Linked DNA regions of Homo sapiens. The protein of the gene in region 2 purifies or fractionates together with the protein of the main gene of each other region. This does not show direct contact. Each region holds a gene or a part of one and is shown on either strand. Other genes may lie near its edges.

Region 1 (3,704 bases), on a different chromosome or scaffold from region 2:
TTCACACCATGCCGGGACGTCCACCTTACTCCCTGAATCAGAGTGGAGTTTTGTGTAGTTTAACATTTTCCTTACACAGGAAGGAAATCATTCTTTTTACAGGGACTTGATACGTAACTCACAGAGTATAGTCCTTCCAAGTCAGAGGCGCGCTTTTCATGAACTCCAGCATCTCAGCTGAGGCCACATCTGGAAGTGCACCCAGCCACCATCAAGGCAACTGTTCCACCCTAGGCCGTGCCCGCCCCCGGCCGCCCCACAGAGCCTTCTACAATTCTCCAGCCAAGTGGAAGGGACGACAGGAACTCTGGTCTAGTCTCCCAGAGCTGAAACGCCACAGCTCTAGGCATTTCAGATGACAAGTGGCAGAGTCTGCACCTCACCTTTATGTGTTCCCAGAACCTTATTGTCTTCTATGGAAATAAAGTGACCAGGTCGAGGCTGCAGATACTGGAAAACAAACATGTCATTACCGACGGAGATCTAGGCCCAGGGCAGACACGCAGCCCCATCTCTTTGTGTCAAAGAGCAGCACGCACCTGAAGAAGGAAATGTTCAAAATTCCTCTTCCCGATGAAACACATGCCCATGCTCTGAAATGAGAAGACGGCAGCCGTGAGAGGAGCAGAAGTGGCGGTGGCCCAAGCTGTACCCAGACGTCCTGAGCGGGCCCTGGGGCCTCCCGGCCTCACCCCACACTTTGCTTCCAGGGTAGGGGCCCGGCTGCCCACCGGCACCCTCGGCCGCCAGTCACAGCCGGCGCACACGATGCCAGAGCCTTAGAGAACGCCTCATTGTCTCGGCCCGCGGGGTCTGACCCTGCGCGGGAGACCCTCACACCAGCTGCCCCGGGGAAGAAAGCAGAACCCGGTCAGGTCCTTCAGGCCACTGTCCTGCGAGGAGTGGGGGAGAGACAGGGACCAGAGAAGGGGCAGGTAGCAGGAAAGCCAGGCCTGAAGCTAAGGCCTTAGGGGAGGGCTCCAGGGGAGTCAGAGGAGAGAGGCGCCTTCCTCAAGCACATCTGCCCTAGCTGGGGAGCCTGGGTGGCGTGCGCTCTCCACCGTGGCCCCATCAGGGGCTGCATCGTTTACTCTGGTTTGTGTCTCTCAAGACTGCCCTTCCATCCCTGCGGCTCCCACCACAGAGCGACACCGGAAACGGAAAACAAGAGGAGAGGAGGACGGGCGGTGGGCGTGCTCTTCAGGGAAGATGGCTCTGATGAAAGGTATGGCCGTTTCCATTACCAGGAAGAGACACGAAGGAGCAACAGCTCCCACCGCACTGGCCCCTGAAGAGGTGAGGCTCATCCCACAGCGCCCTCGCCCTCCATCCCCAAGGCCCTCCCACGGGCTTCATCCTAGTTCCGCCAACACTCCGGGTTCTCTCTTTTTGAGACGAGTTTCGCTGTGTTGCCCAGGCTGTCCTCAAACTCCTGGGTGCGCTCGATCCTCCTGAGGAGCTGGGGCCACAGGCAGGCACCCCCACAGCGGCTCCCTGGCTTCTCCTCGCCTCAAGGCCTTTGCACTGCCGTTCCCTCATCTGGACTTTCCCAGCCCTCTCTGGGACACCGGATCCTCTCCTCCTTCAGGTCTCAGGTTCCATGTGACTTCTTTTGAGGCCGTTTTTGGCATCTCCATTCCCTACTCTCAGACCCCACTGGTGCTTCCCACCCAGGGTCCTACACCTCCCTCCGTAGACATTTTCTAGGTTTACACTGATTGGCCTCCTGCCTGTGTCCCCCACTCGCGGGCGGGCTCCATGGAGGCGAAGATGGAACTGTGTGCGCGTCACCAATTCCTCGCGGCCCAGCAGCACAGCGCCCGAACAGATGGCACCGAACGAGTCTGTGCCGGGCAAGCGGGTGACAGGGCACATGAGTGTGCAGACGGCGGCACAGCACCTGCCCCTCCAGGGGTCTCGGGGCTGCATCACACTGCCTGGCACTCACCTGGCAGGCAGGCCATCCCAAGAGCACCCCACCAGCTGCTAAGGCTGTGGGGAAAGCTGCCTACCACATAGGGGCAGAGGAGAGGAAAAAAGCAAGGAGTCTCGTATAGGCTGCTCCCGATGTCAGCAGAGCCCTGTACCGTGCGCCTCAGCAAACTCCTCCATCTATTGCTCCAAGGCCCGCCTTTGATGTTAGGTCCTGGAGAAGGGGAAGTGGTGCGGGACCCACAGGTCCAGCTGCTCCGTGCCATGCAGTCGGGAAAGGGAAACAGGCACTAATCAAAGGCAACTGCTCACTCGTACCTCTTTCTTCTGAAGCACATGATGAAGTCTATTCTCAGCAGCGATTTTCTTTACAAACTCTTTCGTTAATCCCCCCAGAGGGAAGATGGTTCTCCTCAGGGCATCCTGGGAAACCTGGCTGAGAAAGAAGGTCTGGTCTTTAAAGCTGTCAGCTGCCTGGAGGAGTTTTACCGCTGCCAAGAATAAAGAACAAAAGACGATGCAGGAATAAAAATAATGATACTTCACTTTCAACAATGTCCTTCTGTTCACTTAGACAGACTACCCCTAGCCTGTCAGAGGCAGACATCAACACTCAATAGCAACTACTAGGGAAAAGACCACCACGGGTTAATGTAAGAAAAATTCGCACCTCCAAAAAAAAAAACAAGGATTTTACATGACAAAGAAATTATTCCAGCTCATACTTCAGATTATAATATTTTCAAAGATGAAACATCACATGAAAAAATGTTCTCAAGTGATAAGAAAAAAAAAAAAAAACACCTAAAATAAATTCAGCCAAATCTTGGAAAATGGAGTAAGCTAGTTGCTGGCAGAAAATTCCACTGATATAGTGTCAGCTGTGCCTTCTTCCAACAACCACAGGATGTGTTCGTGCCACAGTGGTTTCAAGGACTCTACACTTTCCAGGTTCACTGCCCGGCGGCCAGCACATGCCTCCAGCAGCGCCCTACCTGTGAAGGCATTAGCTTTCTTGGTAAAAACGTTTTTTTGTTGAGAGTCTCAGCTGACATCTGTTAGGTGACCCTGCAGTTCCTCCGACATTCCCTATGTGATTGTAAAGAACCATTTCTGGCTTTAAGGCAACGGAGCAGAGGTGTGAGTAAACCTGGCTTAGAACCGTCCAGTTCTCCACTCTCGAGTTCAATGATCAATGGCAAAAAACTAAGACGAACGTCAGTTTTCTGGCTTCTTTCAATCTTTCTCATAAACTTCTCCTTTCGAGTTACACTCAGAGCACGCCACATGCCGTGACGGTCAGACAGCACACCTACCCTTCCTGGCTTGGCAGAGCCACGTGTACAGTACACACTCTGCGTAGCTAGTGTTTTCCATCTGCCGATTCCCACGTTAGCCGTGAGAGGGAGAATTCTCCCCACGTTACAGAGGGGAGACTGGAGCCGGCCCAGTTCATCACATATGACTCGCCCAAAGTGATGCAGGTGGAGGCGGTGGGGCTGGAGGCTGCCCAGCCTCCCGAGTCCCCCTCCCTTACTTGGCAGGTACAAACAGCAGAACTGAGTGACAAGTGAGACCAAGTTCAGCCGACCAGTCGCCACGGAAGCAGAGCACTTTCCAGAGTCCACTTTTTTTTTTTTTTTTGAGATGGAGTCTCGCTCTGTCGCCCAGGCTGGAGTGCAGTGGCACATCTCGGCTCACGGCAATCTCCGCCTCCTGGGTTCAAGTGATTCTCCTGTCTCAGCCTCCAGAGTACCTGGGACTACAGGCAT
Region 2 (4,347 bases):
CCTTTCCAGCTGGGTGACCCCAGCAAGACACTGAACTCTTGAGTCTGAGTCCACACTTGAGAAATAGGAACAATGACGCCTGTGTCACTGGGTTGTGGTACTACATACATACGACAGGGCCTGTATACATAGCACGCAGTGTCTGGCACTCGGTAAGTGTGCCGTGAACCACCTGTCCTCTCTTCTGAGCTGCAAGGAAGGACAAGCCCTGGACAAGGAGTGGCCTGCGTGATCAAATTCCGGGGCTTAGACCCTGTCGCAAGAAAGCCTAGCTGGAGCAAAGGCTGGAGGAGAGGTTTACAAGGGGAATTATCTTCTGTTCACCTGCAAAGACAAGGGGGCAGAGTGTGGCACAAGGAATCTGGAGAAGGTTCCCAAGGGGATGGCTGAGGCGGTCATTTCCAGGGACAGCTGTGTGTGCACACAGGGAAAAAGGCAAAGAGGCCGGTCACGCTGGAGAAAACCTAGAATCTCCACCCCTGCTGCCAATCCTCGTCTGGGAGTTCTCCAGCTCTGCAAACCAGACCTGCAGCCTCAGCCAGAATAGATACCCCACAAAACTGGGGTACAGGCTGAAAAACTCCACTGGGGGTCTGCTCCCCACCTATGGCTACATTTCAGCCTGGCGTCTTGTCATCTGGATGATGGCAATGTACCCACTTTCAACAGCCTGAAGCCATGGAATAGGCTCTTCCCCAAGCCCTGCCCCCAAAGCTCTGCCAGCAACATTCCCTACATTCCAGTGAGAGGAAGGGAATGGCAGTCAGGGAGGGGCATCCCGTGGGGCAGACATGTGGGTGGAGGTAAGAGGAAGAATTACAGAGAGTGCACAAACACCTTTAGCAAGGGAGTCCCCTCTCTAGGTGCAGTACCACACTGGCCACTTCCGGGTCCCCTGCTAGGTTCATCATTGGCAGCACCTCAGATGTCCTTGGATGGAAGTGGAGAGCACCCAGGCCAGGGAAACGAACTAAGCTTTCTAGGAAATAAAGCCTTTTCATTAAAGGAAGCCACCCAAAGAAAGAGGCAACAGCCGCCAAGATTTACCCATTTTTTATTTTTTATAAAACAAGCTACAAATAGTTTCCCTCTCTCCTTCACAAAGGAAAACCACACAACACCACCTACACACACGATCCTGTGGGAGACAAGATGCCTGGGGAGATCTCGAAGATCCAAACATCTACAGGCAGGCGCCGTCTCCATGTGTGCATGCTTCCTCCAGGCCTGAAAGTGGGGCCAGTGTCTCGTGCAAGGCCCACTCAGCTCCGGCACGTTGAGTTCTCTCATTGGGGCTAATGGGAGAAGGCTTCCTTCCCACCTTTCCACGTTGGGGCAGGGCCACCAGTCATTCCTGAGATAACCTCTAGGACTTTCTCCAGGACAGCAGGGACCTCCTTTAGCCCAAGACCCCATCAGATCCTGTCCCGAGAAGGTTGTGCTCCTCCCACAGGGACAGTGCTTGTGGTGCCAACGCCTTCCAGACCCGGAACGGGTGGAGGTACTTTTAGGGATGTCGGGTTGGAATACAAGATGAGGCCAGATTTGCAAGGGTGATCTGAGGAGGGGACCAGTCCAGGGCTACCCAACCTCCCTCACTGCCACCACAGCTGCTTATGGGAAGGGGCGCTAAGGGCCACTTGCTGCTCTGCCTGAAGGCCACTTGAATAGGCACAGCACCTGGGCAGAGGGAGCTGCGCCTCAGACCAGAAGGCTGGGCAGCCCACCCTAGAATCCGCGGAAGATGCCTGTGATGCCTGTGGAAAGCTGGGCCGGGATTTCCCTGTAGCTGGGTTATCACCCCTGCCCTTCTAGGGGAGGCAGAATAGGAAACCCAAGATCAGTTTTACTTCTGGAATTAGCTTAAAGCCTGGAAGCCCATAAGAAAACTTGAGGGAACAGGAAGAACCTCAGTATTGGGTTTTTAAAAAACCAACAAAACAACTTTAGTGTTACCAACAAGGTGACTGACACCTCCCCCAACCCACCCACCCAGGCCTGTGATAGCCACTAGGACAACAGCAGGAGATGGAGGAGTGGAGAGGTCACACCCAATCTGCCCCTGGCACTGAGACAGCTGCGTCTCTGGGAGCCTCACTGGTAGGTTTGCAGGGAGGTGAAGAGTTTCCCTGTTGGCACCGCACCCCTCAGTGCAGGCTTTCTGTCCTGTCCCCTCCCCTGCTTAGATATTAAATATCTACTTTTTTAAAGGCCCTTCTGTGTGTCTTTTTCTTCTTTGCCTCCCCTCTCATGCGTTATACAGAGTAGATGCTAAGCATGGATGAAAACGTTTCGAGTGACGTAATGCAAATCCTTTGTGGATAATTTGCTCCGAGGGTCACTAAGATACTGGTGCACCCACCAATGCTGGGCCCTTTGGGGGTCCGGAGAGCAGGAATGCACGGACCCTCTGAGAGCCGGTACCTGTGTGGGCTATTCATGGGATCTGGACTCCCTTCCTCTCCCAGGGCAGTTTCCATCTCTCCTTAGCCCAACCTCCCTGGACAAGGCCGAGAGCCAAGTGACTTATCAATTTTGACAACTAATGGCATGGGGCAATATAGTCCTCCCACCAGAAAAGAACTCGTGGAGTCCGCAGTACAATTGCAGGACTCCCGTCTTTATACACAAGGGTCAGTCTCCAAACAGAAGTTTAGTAGGCCCAGGATAGAGTCCTGGATTTTAGAAAGCTGGACTATGTGTCCAGAGTGCCCACCACCCACAGCAGGCAGAGGGAGAGAAATAAACAAACAGCAATGCCAATGCCTGTACAAAAGAACTATACAATTTACATATATATTTATATACAGCATATAAATCTCTTTCTTCTCAGCCCCAACAACACCCTCCCCCACCCCCCCAAAACCCTCTAAAAGTTGTCAGTAGCAGATCCAAAAACTTACAATAAGAGAGAGAATAAAGTCTTTCTTCCCTTTCCTTTTCCCACTGTGGTATTAGATATTGGTGTTTTAAAATGAAACCAAAAACAAAACACGCAAGTAAGAGTTATTAAAAGTGCAAACATGGTGGGCACCACTTATGTTACACGGGATGTGGCAGGGCCATGGGCAACGCTGAAGGTTAGGTGTCTGGTGATCCATCCTGCCTCCCTGGACTCTCCACCTGCCCTTGGGTTTTCTGCTCCTTAGACGAGGCGTCCTACTGAGAGAAGGAAGGAGAATGCAAAAAAAAAAAAAAAAAGGTCGGGGGCAGATATAAGCAAGAAGTTAGAGTTGGGCTTGTGAGAAATCCAGCTATGTCCATCAATTTCCCCACAAGTGCAGCCTTTTCCACCTGCTGTCCTCTATGAGGCTAGGTGGGGCACAGGTTGCCTGGACTTGCAGATGAGCATGTTTTACCAGCCTGTCCTTTGCCACTATGAGGCACCACCACTGCAACTGAAATAAGTCTGGCATTGGAGAGAACGAGGCTTGGCCTAGGGAAGTGTGGGTTGCAGGGTGTGCACTCTGTTCAGATCACACTACTCTCACATGCCAGCTTTTCAACCTGGGGCTGGGGTGGAAACGACAGGGGTTTGTTTACAGGTGGGGATGGCAGAATCCCATTGGCACTGACCCAATAGTTCTCTCGTGTCCTCAGCAAACAACCTGAAAATGGGAGCTTAAGTCACCTGGCCAATCCCTTCACCCCTGAGGAGCCCAGAAAGGGGCAACTTACTGAATGGGTTTGTGCCTGCTCATTTTGCCTGGGGGAAACTGCCAAGGCTACCACCTGCAACAAACCAGGAACATGTGACATTGAGTGGCCTTGACCAGAGAACTGGCACCTTCTTCCGTATGCTGGGTCTCTGTCCTCTCTGACCCTCAGAATAAAGAGCAGACTTGGGAAAGAGCAAAAAGTTGTTTGGCCCTACTTTTTGCTCTGTGAGTGTCTATGGCTCAGGTGAACTTATTACTGGCCAACGCCTTCACACAAAGTCCCTTTTCCATAAGGCCTGGCTCCTGCTGGGCACCTCTTTGCAATCCCTCAGCTATCCACTAAGAAGGGCTCTGGTGCTGATGTACCTGGACAGAACTGTCCCAGGTCTTGGTTCCCCGAGTCACAGAATGTCAGAGGTAGAAGGAATCCAGCAGCAGCTCAGAGCAGAGGGGCGACTTACACAAAGTCCCAGCCTCATTCTGCTGACACCCACATCTCCCCACAGGGTGCTGAGCCATTGTGGAAACTGCCACGCCTGCTCCAGCAGGTCCTGGCCTCTTGAAGAGGAGCGAGGAGCTGGGGGCAAGCACATCAAGAGCTGCCCCCCGCCACCACTCCGAGATGCTTAGGGCCACGTGACTCTGTGCATGCCCCTGAACCTCTCTGGGTCAGTCTACAGCCTGGGAG

The links. Proteins that work in one complex are often made in the same cells at the same time.
Region 1: the proteins of SMOC1 (region 2) and TRMU purify together in Homo sapiens (affinity purification with mass spectrometry; one large-scale study listed by BioGRID and IntAct). This does not show direct contact.

What each region holds. Positions count from the first base shown.
Region 1 is NC_000022.11:46,349,010-46,352,713, reverse strand, and holds part of TRMU (mitochondrial tRNA-specific 2-thiouridylase 1), read right to left. Parts: intron 2,424-3,704; coding exon 2,251-2,423; intron 594-2,250; coding exon 540-593; intron 451-539; coding exon 384-450; intron 1-383. UniProt on the Homo sapiens protein: Catalyzes the 2-thiolation of uridine at the wobble position (U34) of mitochondrial tRNA(Lys), tRNA(Glu) and tRNA(Gln).
Region 2 is NC_000014.9:70,029,057-70,033,403, reverse strand, and holds the end of SMOC1 (SPARC-related modular calcium-binding protein 1 isoform 1 precursor), read right to left. Parts: intron 3,163-4,347; coding exon 3,146-3,162; 3' UTR 1,038-3,145; downstream 1-1,037. UniProt on the Homo sapiens protein: Plays essential roles in both eye and limb development. Probable regulator of osteoblast differentiation.